3 linked regions of the Homo sapiens genome follow. The protein of the gene in region 3 purifies or fractionates together with the protein of the main gene of each other region. This does not show direct contact. Each region holds a gene or a part of one and is shown on either strand. Other genes may lie near its edges. The genes, in order: NCEH1, LZTFL1 and TMEM38A.

Region 1 (3,751 bases), on a different chromosome or scaffold from region 3:
ACTTTTGGAGGCTGAGGCAGGTGGATCACCTGAAGTCAGGAGTTCAAGACCAGCCTGGCCAACACGGTGAAACCCTGTCTCTACTAAAAATACAAAATTAGCTGGGCTTAGTGGCAGGCATCTGAAATCCCAGCTACTCGGGAGGCTGAGGCAGAATGGCTTGAACCCGGGAGGCAGAGGTTGCAGTGAGCCAAGATTGCACCATTGCACTCCAGCCTGGGTGACAAGAGCGATGCTCTATCTCAAAAAAAAAAAGAATAGCTTCTAATTTTCTACACATATACTCACACACAAACATAAACATAAACATTCCTATCTGTTTAGAGTTATGAGTTTAACCAGTAACTTAAAAGACAGAGAGAGAGAGAGAGAGAGAGAGAGAGAGAGAGAGAGAGAGAGAGAGAGGCCAGGTGCCGTGGATCATGCCTGTAATCCCAGCACTTTGGGAGACTGAGGTGGGCAGATCACAAGGTCAGGAGTTTGAGACCAGCCTGGCCAGCATGGTGAAACCCCATCTCTACTAAAAATACAAAAATCAGCCAGGTGTGGTGGTGGGCACCTGTAATCCCACCTACTGAGGAGGCTGAGGCAAGAGAATTGCTTGAACCCAGGAGGTGGAGGTTGCAGTGAGCTGAGATCGTGCCATTGCACTCTAGCCTGGGCGAAAAGAGCAAGACTCCGTCTCAAAAAAAACAAAAAACAAACACCAAAAACAAACAAAACAAAAAAAAAAGAGAGAGAGAACTTGCTTGAAATACCATGAAAGTGTGCCCTTCTTATCAGTTTTCCTTCAATGTTGAAGAAGAAGCCAACTGTTTCCTAAAAATCTCATTATCAGAACCAAATTTATGGTTATTTCACTTCTATTAATTTGATTAAATTAAAATTACCATCTTAAGATGCATAATTATATATACTAGGTGTTTTAAGACCTTCATCAATAAGTTTGGAGTTGTCATCCTACCACTTTCTTGAAACAGGTCTTCTAACTGTTTTCCTTCTGGATTTCTGGTTGAAATTTTGCTAGTGAAGTTTTCTCTCTCCCATTCAGTACTCACCCACCCCTCCTCACCCCCAATCATTAACAAGAAATCTGGGTTTAAGTGTATTTCTGCTACCATTGACTCACTGAAAGAATTTTTCAGGTGATATCCACACGTTTCTCCAATAAAAAGTTATTATTTTTTCCCTTTGTAGTAATTTGTGGAGAGATCTTCTGATGAAGGACCAAAATTCTGTGTCAAATTTTTACCCTCTAGTTTTAGCATTCATTTATGATTTTCTATGGATACTAGCTGGCATTCTATTTTAAGAAAAGCCTTTCTTCTTTCCTCATTTATTTATATTAATATAGATTGTTGAGTTTTATTTTAATCAATGGGTTATCCATTATGATGATTTATATTGATGGTAAAATTATCCCAGCTTCAGCCACTGGGAGACCCTTCAAGCTGGCAGCTGTGGACCTTTGACCAGTTCCTATCATTTTTTGAGCACTTCCGCATCTCTGGCACAACAGGTTCATCTTGTACTTTACAGCCCCAGCCCTGGTATCAGCCTTTTCTCCAGAGGTTGTGTCAAAAAGCCGTGGTTCCTCTTATTGGAGCATAGGATTTAGAAACCAAGACTTGGGTGCTAGATGTACTACTGGCCTTTCATTGCTTGAGCCAGAAGAATTTAATATCTTCTTTTGCCATATATCAGCTAGAACTTACAAACCACTCCAAGTCTGGCTCCAGAAAACAGAATTTTTATATCCTTTCTCAGTACTCTGAGTCAGAATGACCCACTTGCTTTGTCCAGAGACTCGTCACACTGAAACTATTTTCCGTTTGAGACCTTCCAGGAGGAAAGCCATCCTCACACGCATGCAGTACAAACCAGTGTCCTCCAGAGTCCGCTGTGCCTACGGCCAGAGCAGCGACAGAGCCTTCCTCAAACCTGTAGTGACTGCCACACTTTGCAAGGACACCGTAGAGGGGGCATGTCCGCGCTCCAACTTCCTCCCGACGCAGCCTCTGATTGGCTCCTGGGCTTATAAGAAACGCGTGAATGAGCAGCTGCCGCGGGCAGAAAGTTGCCGGAGGTCTCCGGGTGGTATCGCCCTTTCCTCTTTGCCAGCCCGCTGGCGAGCCGAGCCAGGGCAAGATGAGGTCGTCCTGTGTCCTGCTCACCGCCCTGGTGGCGCTGGCCGCCTATTACGTCTACATCCCGCTGCCTGGCTCCGTGTCCGACCCCTGGAAGCTGATGCTGCTGGACGCCACTTTCCGGGGTGCACAGCAAGTGGTGAGGTGCAGCCCAGCGCTGCTTCTCTCTTCCTCCTCTTACGCAATATTTGAAGGGGATACAAAATTCCTCCGCCGGGTTCCACGAAAACGCAGGTTTTTCCTAATGCATTGAGGCTGTCGCTTTTTGAGGTGGTCCAGTCGGGAATTTTCAGGGTATCGCATTCGCCTCCTTGCTAGCAGCGGGCTAGATCTGCATTTCCCCGTCTGCGTTTGTGACGGGGAAGAAGTGCTTGAATAGAATTTGACAACTGTTTAAACCTTCGTCTGTCCTAAATATCTTCCTCTTCCTTGGTTTGCAACGTCAAAAGGCAAATCCTTAAGCAGTTTATAAACCACCCTTCTTCACACTGTCGTTCTCCCATAGGGACCGGCAGAGGATAAATATTTTTAGGAGAGCTCGGGAAAAGCAGGCTCTGGTTCCTGGGAATGCAGCCACCTTAGAAGCAGAAGCAGGCAAGGGCAGTCTCGCAATGTCCCCAGGCTGTGGAGCGCTCCGTTCCCGGAGACAGCAGGCAGGGCTCTCCATCCAAGCACTTGAGGAACCATAGGGATCTCTCGTTTCACCCGAGGCAGATCTCAGCTCAGCCCAAGAAAGAGGACTGGGAGGCTGGGCTGGCTGAAAGGAGGTGAGGAGGCGGCAGCCCTGGTTTGCATGATGCATGTTTTCTGCTTGCCCTGCAGCATTTATTTTATGTCCTTGGCTGTCAGATAACCTTTTCCTGAGCGAGGTTACCTGCCTTAACCTGGGAGGGTAACATTTCTCTCCACTGTATCATGGGCGTGTGTTCATTCCTTCCATACACAGGAAAATATAACTGTCTCTGGTTTATTCCATGGTAAGAGGCATTATTTTTAGTGTCAGAGAATCTAAAATCTAAACTACAGTCTGCAGCCAAGGCTGAGCCCTCTGATTGGACAGTATTTCTGAGCAGCCTGCTCTATCTAAACTCTAACCTTCTCCAAAACCAAGCCTCCTCCCTCCCCACAACCTTGGGCTTTAATCTCAGAATATTTTTATAAACTCTTTCTTTCAGAAATGACAACTAGAGAAAGAGAAAAAAAATCATTTCAACCTGAGAAAGCTGATTTTAAAAAAGTCATGATTTTCCCAGAGGGTTTATGTTCCTGTTCCCTGTCCACTCATTATGTGTAGGATTACATAATCTGTGGGGCTTTATCCTATGAAAAGTCCCCTTACTAGGATATTGCAGCACATTCCTAGCGTGGATTTGCTTTTCCTGAATTCAGCCACATTCTCACCTCCAAAGCCCCTTTTGTCTCTTAGGAAAGGTCTATGAAGCTATAGACCCCTGCCCCCCTTCTTTTCCTCTTGCTTCCTATAATGTTGACATGGTGAAAATGATCATCCCCTTCTTTAGCACTGGTGTCAAGAAAGTCAGTCTTGTTGTAGGAAGCCTTGCATTCCCTCTCCTCCCCCATGAAATTATGTAATTTGAAAGTAA
Region 2 (3,751 bases), on a different chromosome or scaffold from region 3:
TGATCTAGGCTCACTCCAAGCTCCACCTCCCGGGTTCACGCCATTCTCCTGCCTCAGCCTCCGAGTAGCGCCTGCCACCACGCCCGGCTAATTTTTTGTATTTTTAGTAGAGATGGGGTTTCACCATGTTAGCCAGGTTGGTCTTGATCTCCTGATCTTGTGATACGCCCGCCTCGGCCTTCCAAAGTGCTGGGATTACAGGTGTGAGCCACCGTGCCCGGCCAAAAATGTAATAGTTTTATTGGGAAAGTAGAACTGATGTTCTAGAAATAGAGACCAGAGAATATTCTCCTGTGTGCTACAGGTGTCATACTGGGTAGCAGAGAAGACTCAGTTGTGTGTGGATAACAGTAGGTGAGAACAGGCTCTTGGGTAAAGGGGTACCTAAGCTGGGCCTTGAAGGATGAAGACCAGTTAAATTGTAGAGGAAAGAGAAGTGAGTGTGTTGGGCAGGAGAACAGAACAGGCAGTGGTCAGACAGGAGGCGGCATGACTTGAAACAGAGTGCAGTGCCCTCTGACTGGGCTGATGTGTTTATTTGAGTCTACTGAAAAATAACACAGATGATTCAAATGTTTGAGCTGTATAAGAACAAAAGTGTTTGGCCTCACCTCAGTCAGAAGCATCTGTGGGCTTGAGCATGGTACTGAAGTGAAGGAGTTCTCAGGATAAGGGGCAACAGTGTGCAGTGTAGGCTGAGAATAGACCCAGGATTTGCAGGACCAGCTAGGAGAAAGTTGGCAGGGAAGCGGGTCTTTGGAAAAAAATTTGAAAACAGAAAACAGAGGACTGAAAGAGGGAAGATGTGTCTGAGAAACTGAAAGAAAAGAAACTAGATGTCTTAGATCCAAAGCTGACTCACAGATACTGAGGCTGATAGGCTGGATGAAATTGGGATATTACCAAAATATCAGTAGTACATTTTTGAGCTATTATGTAATTTAAATTTAAAAATTAGATTTTTAAGTGAAACAAGTAATAATTTCAAATATTAAAATATTTTGGTTAATATAATAAAATTTGAATTTACTCACAAAGGAAATTTTAAGACTTCAAGAAGAGAATGAGAAATTGAAGTCAAGGTTGAAGACCATTGAAATACAGGTAACTGAGAAATGTTTTGACACAATTATTGAACTGCCTACAGATTAAATACTGAAAGTGTTTTGTTTAAACTTCACTATAGGCTACAAATGCACTGGATGAAAAGTCAAAACTAGAAAAAGCACTGCAAGATTTACAGCTTGATCAAGGAAATCAAAAGGTGAAACAAGTTTTAGCTACCTTTCTCACATTTTCTAAGTAGAATGAAGTTATAAACTTAAAATTAAGTCTTAGTTACTGCTCACTGTACCCCACCCCTGCTACTCCCTGAGACAAATGCCTCTATTGTCATGTGTTGGGACATTCTTGCCCCCAAAAGGCCTGGTGAGAACCAGTGACCTTCCCTCTGTCCATCCTCTAGGGCAGAGGGGACAGTACATAGCTCACACACCTGCAGTTTCCCTGGCATGCAAGATATTCTCACATTTATTTTTTAAGTTTTTCTACAATCTTCCTGGTATGCAAGATATTCTCACTTTTTTTTTTTAAGTTTCCCCTCTCACTTTGACATCCAATTACAGTGGAGGGGAAAGAAAATGAAAAGAAAAGTTTTTAATTGGTTTATATTTGGGTTTTATTATACTGAACATTACTTAAGTTTGCCTTTGATGAGTGTGACAAAATGATTATGAATCTGCAGATGCGTCTGTACCCGCCGGCACCATAGAGTACAATGAAATCCAGTGTTGTAGTTCTTCATGCTTGTCTGAATGTAATGACTGAATGTCACTCCGCCTGCGGGAAGTCATTGTATGTACAGTCTGTCTCCTGTGGACTTTCTGTTGAGTGTGCATGCTGCAGTATGATTTCCTGTGAGCAGGACCATTTGGGTAGATATTCAGTACAGCATTGGCTTTTCTAGTGGTCATACTCTCATTGCAAATGTCTGGTAAACAAACCCAAAATCTGCTTCACTGGGCTTTTGCTAATCTTTTCTCTATGAAAAATTTCAAACATACACAAAAGTAGAGAGAATAGTATAATGAACCCCCATGCACTCTTCACTCTATTTAGCAGTTACCAATGCATGGCCAGTCTGGTTTCATTTGTACCTCTACTTTCTTCTTCCCACCAGCCATGTTTTTTTGAAGCAAATCTCAGACGTTGAACCATTTTATCTGTAGATATTTTTAAAATAGGAGGATACTTCTTATATAGCTAATGATTTTCAACCATTATATGCCAATGACAATAGATTTATAAAAACACGAATGTTCCAGAACCGCTTTATAATTTCTCCTAAGTCAAACAATTGCAAACACATGTGGCTGATGAATTTGTTTAAAAGCTTTTTGGGGCTTTGCTCCAATTTTACTTTAAGATTTTGGACACAAGAACAACCAGTGAATACGTGCTTTTATTAGTTGCAATGAAAATCTTTTTTTCAAAGACCAGATTTCAAAAATGAGGAAAGATTTTTTTTTTCTTCTGTTGAAAGTACTTTTTTTTTTTTTTTTTTTTTTTCTTTTGAGACAGGGCCTTATTCTGTTTCCCATGCTGGAGTGCGGTGGTGCAACCATGGCTCACTACAACCTTGACCTCACCGGCTCAAGCGATCCTCCCACCTCAGCCTCCCAAGTGGTTGGGACCACAGGCATGTGCCACCATGCCTGGCTAATTTTTTATATTTTTTGTAGAGACGGGGTCTTGCTCTGTTGCCCAGGCTGGTCTCAATTTCCTGGGCTCAAGTAGTCCTCCTCCCTTGGCCTCCTAAAGTATTGGAATTACAGGCGTGAGAGCCACTTGAAAGTACTAAGTATTTCTTCATCTACATATTAACCAATTGTAGACCATTTTACTGTCTTATCAGTACAAATGTTTTTTCTGTCATGAATCTTATCCAGTCAAAAACAAGATCCAGGAAGAGAGAAGATCCAGTGCCTGTCTTATGCTATAGTTGTCAAAGTATGCAAAAATTACACATATCTCATGAATATAAAAAACTTAAAATCTTAAAAATTTAGAAAACCATGTAATCAGTAATTGTGCTCTCATATTATTTCCTTGTAAATAATGACTAAAACATATGTCTATTAAGTTTTTGGTATAAATTATATTACTTTTATCATTTTTTCTATCATTTTGAAGAATTCAAACTTCTTTGAGGATTTTTTTAAATTTGGCTTTTCAAAATGAAACCTGTTTGCCATCTCAACCCTGGTACACACATCTTGGATGGAAATACCAGCAGTTCACAAATCATATTTTATGTATTTGGAATTCAGTGGCTACTGAGTGTCGGCTGTGTGCAAGACACCACGTACCCAGGGCTGACAATGGACTGGCCTGCTGGTGACTCTGAAGGGGCTGGCACTTACCTAGGCTGGCAAGGGAGGCTGGCATGCACACAAAACATACATCATTTTTTTCATCTCCTATGATGTTGAATCACCATTCTAAAACAGTTATTTTTAGAATATCAACATGAAATTACATGCATGCATTTATTTTTCATAGGATTTTATAAAGGCCCAAGACTTAAGTAACTTAGAAAACACTGTCGCTGCCTTAAAGAGTGAGTTTCAGAAGACACTTAATGACAAGACAGAAAACCAGAAGTCACTGGAGGAGAATCTGGCGACAGCCAAGCACGATCTACTCAGGGTTCAGGAGCAGCTGCACATGGCTGAAAAGGTCAGAAGACCAT
Region 3 (3,751 bases):
GAAGATGAAAGAGTTTTGGAGATGGTTGGTGGTGATTATGGCAAAACAATGTGAATATAATGCCATAGAACCACACACTTGGCCAGCCACTTGGCAGTGGCTCATGCCTGTAATCCCAGCACTTTGGGAGGCCAAGGTGGGCAGATCACAAGGTCAAGAGATTGAGACTATCCTGGCCAACATGGTGAACCCCCATCTCCACTAAAAATACAAAAATTAGTTGGGCGTGGTGGCGCATGCCTGTAATCCCAGCTACTCGGGTGGCTGAGGCAGGAGAATCACTTGAACCCGGGAGGAGGAGGTTGCAGTGAGCCGAGATCGCGCCACCGCGCTCCAGCCTGGTGACAGAGTGAGACTCTGTCTCAAAAAAAAAAAAAAAAAAAAAGAGCTATACACTTAAAAATGTTTAAAATGGGCTGGGCATGGTGTCTCACGTCTATAATCCCAACTCTTTGGGAAGCTGAGCCAGGTGGATGGCTTGAGCCCAGGAGTTTGAGACCAGCCTGGGCAACATGGCGAAACCCCGTGCCTACTTTAAATATACAAAAAATTAGCCTGGCATGGTGGCGCGCGTGCCTGTAGTCCCAAATACTTTCGAGGCTGAGGTGGGAGGAGTGTTTGAGCCCAGGAAGTCAAGGCTGCAGTGAGTCGTGATTGCACCACTGCGCTCCAGGCTGGGTGATGGGAGTGAAACCCTGTGTCCAAAAAAAAAAAAAAAAAAAAAAAGTAAAGTGATAAATTTAATGTATATTTTACAAAAAAAAATTCTTTTTAAGACAGCAGGTGTAAGAATACCAGCATAAGGCTGGGCACGGTGACTCATGCCTGTAATCCCAGCACTTTGGGAGGCTGAGGTGGGAGGTTCACTTGAGTCCAAGAGTTGGAGACCAGCTTGGCCAACATGGTGAAACCCCTTCTCTACTGAAAATACAAAAATTAGCCAGGCATGGTGGTGGCTGCCTGTGATCCCAGCTACTCGGGAGTCTGAGGCAGGAGGATCGCTTGAACCTGGGAGGCAGAATTTGCAATGAGCTGAGATTGCACCATTGCACTCCAGCCTGGGTGACAGAGTGACACTCTGTTTGAAACAAACAAAAAAAGTTAAAAAAAAAAAAAAAAAAGAATACCAGCATAAGCTCATAGGGATCTTGGGATCAGCTGAGGTCAGAATAGCAATTTCTTTTGTTTCGTGTGTGTGTGTGTGTGTGTGTGTGTGTGTGTGTGTGTGTGTGTGTATGTGTGTGTTTTAGATGGAGTCTTGCTCTGTTGCCCAGGCTGGAGTGCAGTGCAGTGGTGCAATCTCAGCTCACTGCAGCCTCCACCTCCTGAGTTCAAGTGATTCTCCTGTCAGCCTCCTGAGTAGCTGGGATTACAGGCATGCACTACCGTTCCCGGCTAATTTTTGTATTTTTAGGGACGGGGTTTCACCATGTTAGCCAGGCTGGTCTTGAACTCCTGACCTCAAGTGATTTGTCCACCTTGGACTCCCAAAGTGCTGGGATTACAGGTGTGAGCCACCATGCCCGGCCCAGAGTAGCAATTTCAAAGTACTCCCAGGTACAAGCTGGCCCGTCTCACCAAGCCTCAGTCTCCTCTTGACAATGAGACTCCTGATAATAAAAGCCATCACTTGGCTGGGACACTGATGAGGATTTATTAAGTCCTAAATGTGAACTAGTGTCATCATCATTGCCACCTCTCTGGGCATGAAGGAAAGGACTCCCACTCGGCTCTCTATTTTCTCTGTGCAACCTCAGGCATGCGTACAGCCTCTCTGAACCTTGGTTCCTCCTCTGAAACTTACAAACTGCACAGTGTTGGGTGGGCGCTCTGGATTAGGATAGGCTGACCAGAGCATATGGGAGTGAAGCCTGCCCTTGGCATGCTGGTGATGATGGGGGACACTCCTGTGCCTCCCAGGAGCAGTCGAACTGTCCCGGCGCCACCCCATCGCGTCCTGGCTGTGCGCCATGCTGCATTGCTTCGGGAGCTACATCCTGGCTGATCTGCTCCTTGGGGAGCCACTGATCGATTACTTCAGCAACAACTCCAGCATCCTGCTGGCCTCAGCTGTCTGGTAAGCCATGCTGGGCATGGGAGAGCAGAGCCGGGTGGGGGAAACAACAACCTGGGCACCAGGGAGGAGAGAGGTTGGAGGAATTAGAATGCACCAGCAACAGCCCTCATGATGGCCCTGAATATGCTGCCCTCCATGCCCATCTCTGGTCTAGGCACAGCACGTTGGGGAGGGTGGTCTGATATAACCACAGCTCCCTACCCCCATCCTTCACAGTCTGCCCATCCCCTGGCACTCACTGTTCTCTCCCCAAAAGGTACTTGATTTTCTTCTGCCCCCTGGACCTCTTCTACAAGTGTGTCTGCTTCCTGCCTGTGAAACTCATCTTCGTGGCCATGAAGGAGGTGGTGCGAGTCCGCAAGATCGCGGTGGGCATCCATCACGCCCATCACCACTACCACCACGGGTGGTTCGTCATGATTGCAACTGGGTGGGTCAAAGGTAAATAGGATGATGACAATGAAAAATCATCCCAGTGGAGAACTTTTGGTTCAGTGGTACTACCAGGCACCCCAGCTAGGAAAGCCATTGCTCCAGGCACAGGGGCATAAAGACTGCAGTAGGTGTTCAAACCTCCCTACAGGTATCAGCCGATACCTTTAGGGTAAATGGGAAGATTCTTCTAGAAATGTTACTGTCAGGGGTACCTAAGACAGTGATGATGATGACAAAAGCCAGCATTGCCAGAGCAGGTTTTCTCACTTGCAGCACTACTGACATGTGGGGCTGGATCATTCTTTGTGGTGGGGGCTGCCTTGTGCACTATAGGATGTTGAACAGCACCCCTGGCCTCCACCCACGAGATGCCAGTAGCACACTTGTCCCCAGCTGTGACAAAGAAATTGTCTCCAGACATTGCTAAACGCCTCCTAGAGGGCAAAATGGCTGCAGGTGAGAACCCCTTCTTCTCTAGAGCTCTAGCTATAGGAGTTCTTAACTTTTGTGGACCATGGCCCTTTTGCCAGTGAAGCCTACAGACCCTTTCGTGTGCAGAAAATAGAGCTAGACATGGTGGCTCATGCCTGTAGTTCTAGCTACTCAGGAGGCTGAGGTGGGAGGATCACTTCAGCCTAGGAGTTCAACATTACAGTGAGCTATGATTGTGCCACTGCACTCCAGCTGGGCAACAGAGCAAGAGTCTGTCTCTAAAAAATTAAAATTAAAAAATAAAGTAATAATGAAAATGTTATTAGAAATAAAGAACGTTTTATAATGATAAAAGGGTCAATCCACCAGGAAGATATAACAACTATAAACATATATGCACCTAGAAACAGAGCACCAAAATACATAAAGCAAAAATGGACAGAAGTTAGGGGAGAAAGAGATAATTCAACATTAAAAGTTGGAGAAGTGGGCCAAGGAGTAACAGGAAAGCAGGGAAAGAAGGCCTGAGCAAGTGCCAAAAACCATTGGGCACTTTATCCTCGCTTCCTGCCCACCAGATATGGGTACCCACAAAGTGCCAAGACCTAGAATCACCCTCCATTGAGCCATGGTGTCCTCAGTTATTCCTTGCTATGGGGAGCCAACCTGTGCATTATACAATGGTGAGCCACCTCCCTGGCCTCGACTCACTAAATACCAGTAGCGCTCCCTCCCCAGCTGTGACAACTCAAAGTGTTTCTCAACATTGCCAGATGCTTCCTTGGGGGCAAAATGGCCCCAGATGCG

What was found.
Region 1: the proteins of TMEM38A (region 3) and NCEH1 purify together in Homo sapiens (affinity purification with mass spectrometry; 3 studies listed by BioGRID and IntAct, with this or other methods). This does not show direct contact.
Region 2: the proteins of TMEM38A (region 3) and LZTFL1 purify together in Homo sapiens (affinity purification with mass spectrometry; 2 studies listed by BioGRID and IntAct, with this or other methods). This does not show direct contact.

The regions. Positions count from the first base shown.
Region 1 is NC_000003.12:172,709,382-172,713,132, reverse strand, and holds the start of NCEH1 (neutral cholesterol ester hydrolase 1), read left to right. Parts: upstream 1-2,065; 5' UTR 2,066-2,148; coding exon 2,149-2,286; intron 2,287-3,751.
Region 2 is NC_000003.12:45,828,426-45,832,176, reverse strand, and holds part of LZTFL1 (leucine zipper transcription factor-like protein 1), read left to right. Parts: intron 1-1,038; coding exon 1,039-1,104; intron 1,105-1,186; coding exon 1,187-1,264; intron 1,265-3,561; coding exon 3,562-3,738; intron 3,739-3,751. UniProt on the Homo sapiens protein: Regulates ciliary localization of the BBSome complex. Together with the BBSome complex, controls SMO ciliary trafficking and contributes to the sonic hedgehog (SHH) pathway regulation. May play a role in neurite outgrowth. May have tumor suppressor function.
Region 3 is NC_000019.10:16,678,064-16,681,814, forward strand, and holds part of TMEM38A (trimeric intracellular cation channel type A), read left to right. Parts: intron 1-1,920; coding exon 1,921-2,077; intron 2,078-2,333; coding exon 2,334-2,518; intron 2,519-3,751. UniProt on the Homo sapiens protein: Intracellular monovalent cation channel required for maintenance of rapid intracellular calcium release. Acts as a potassium counter-ion channel that functions in synchronization with calcium release from intracellular stores.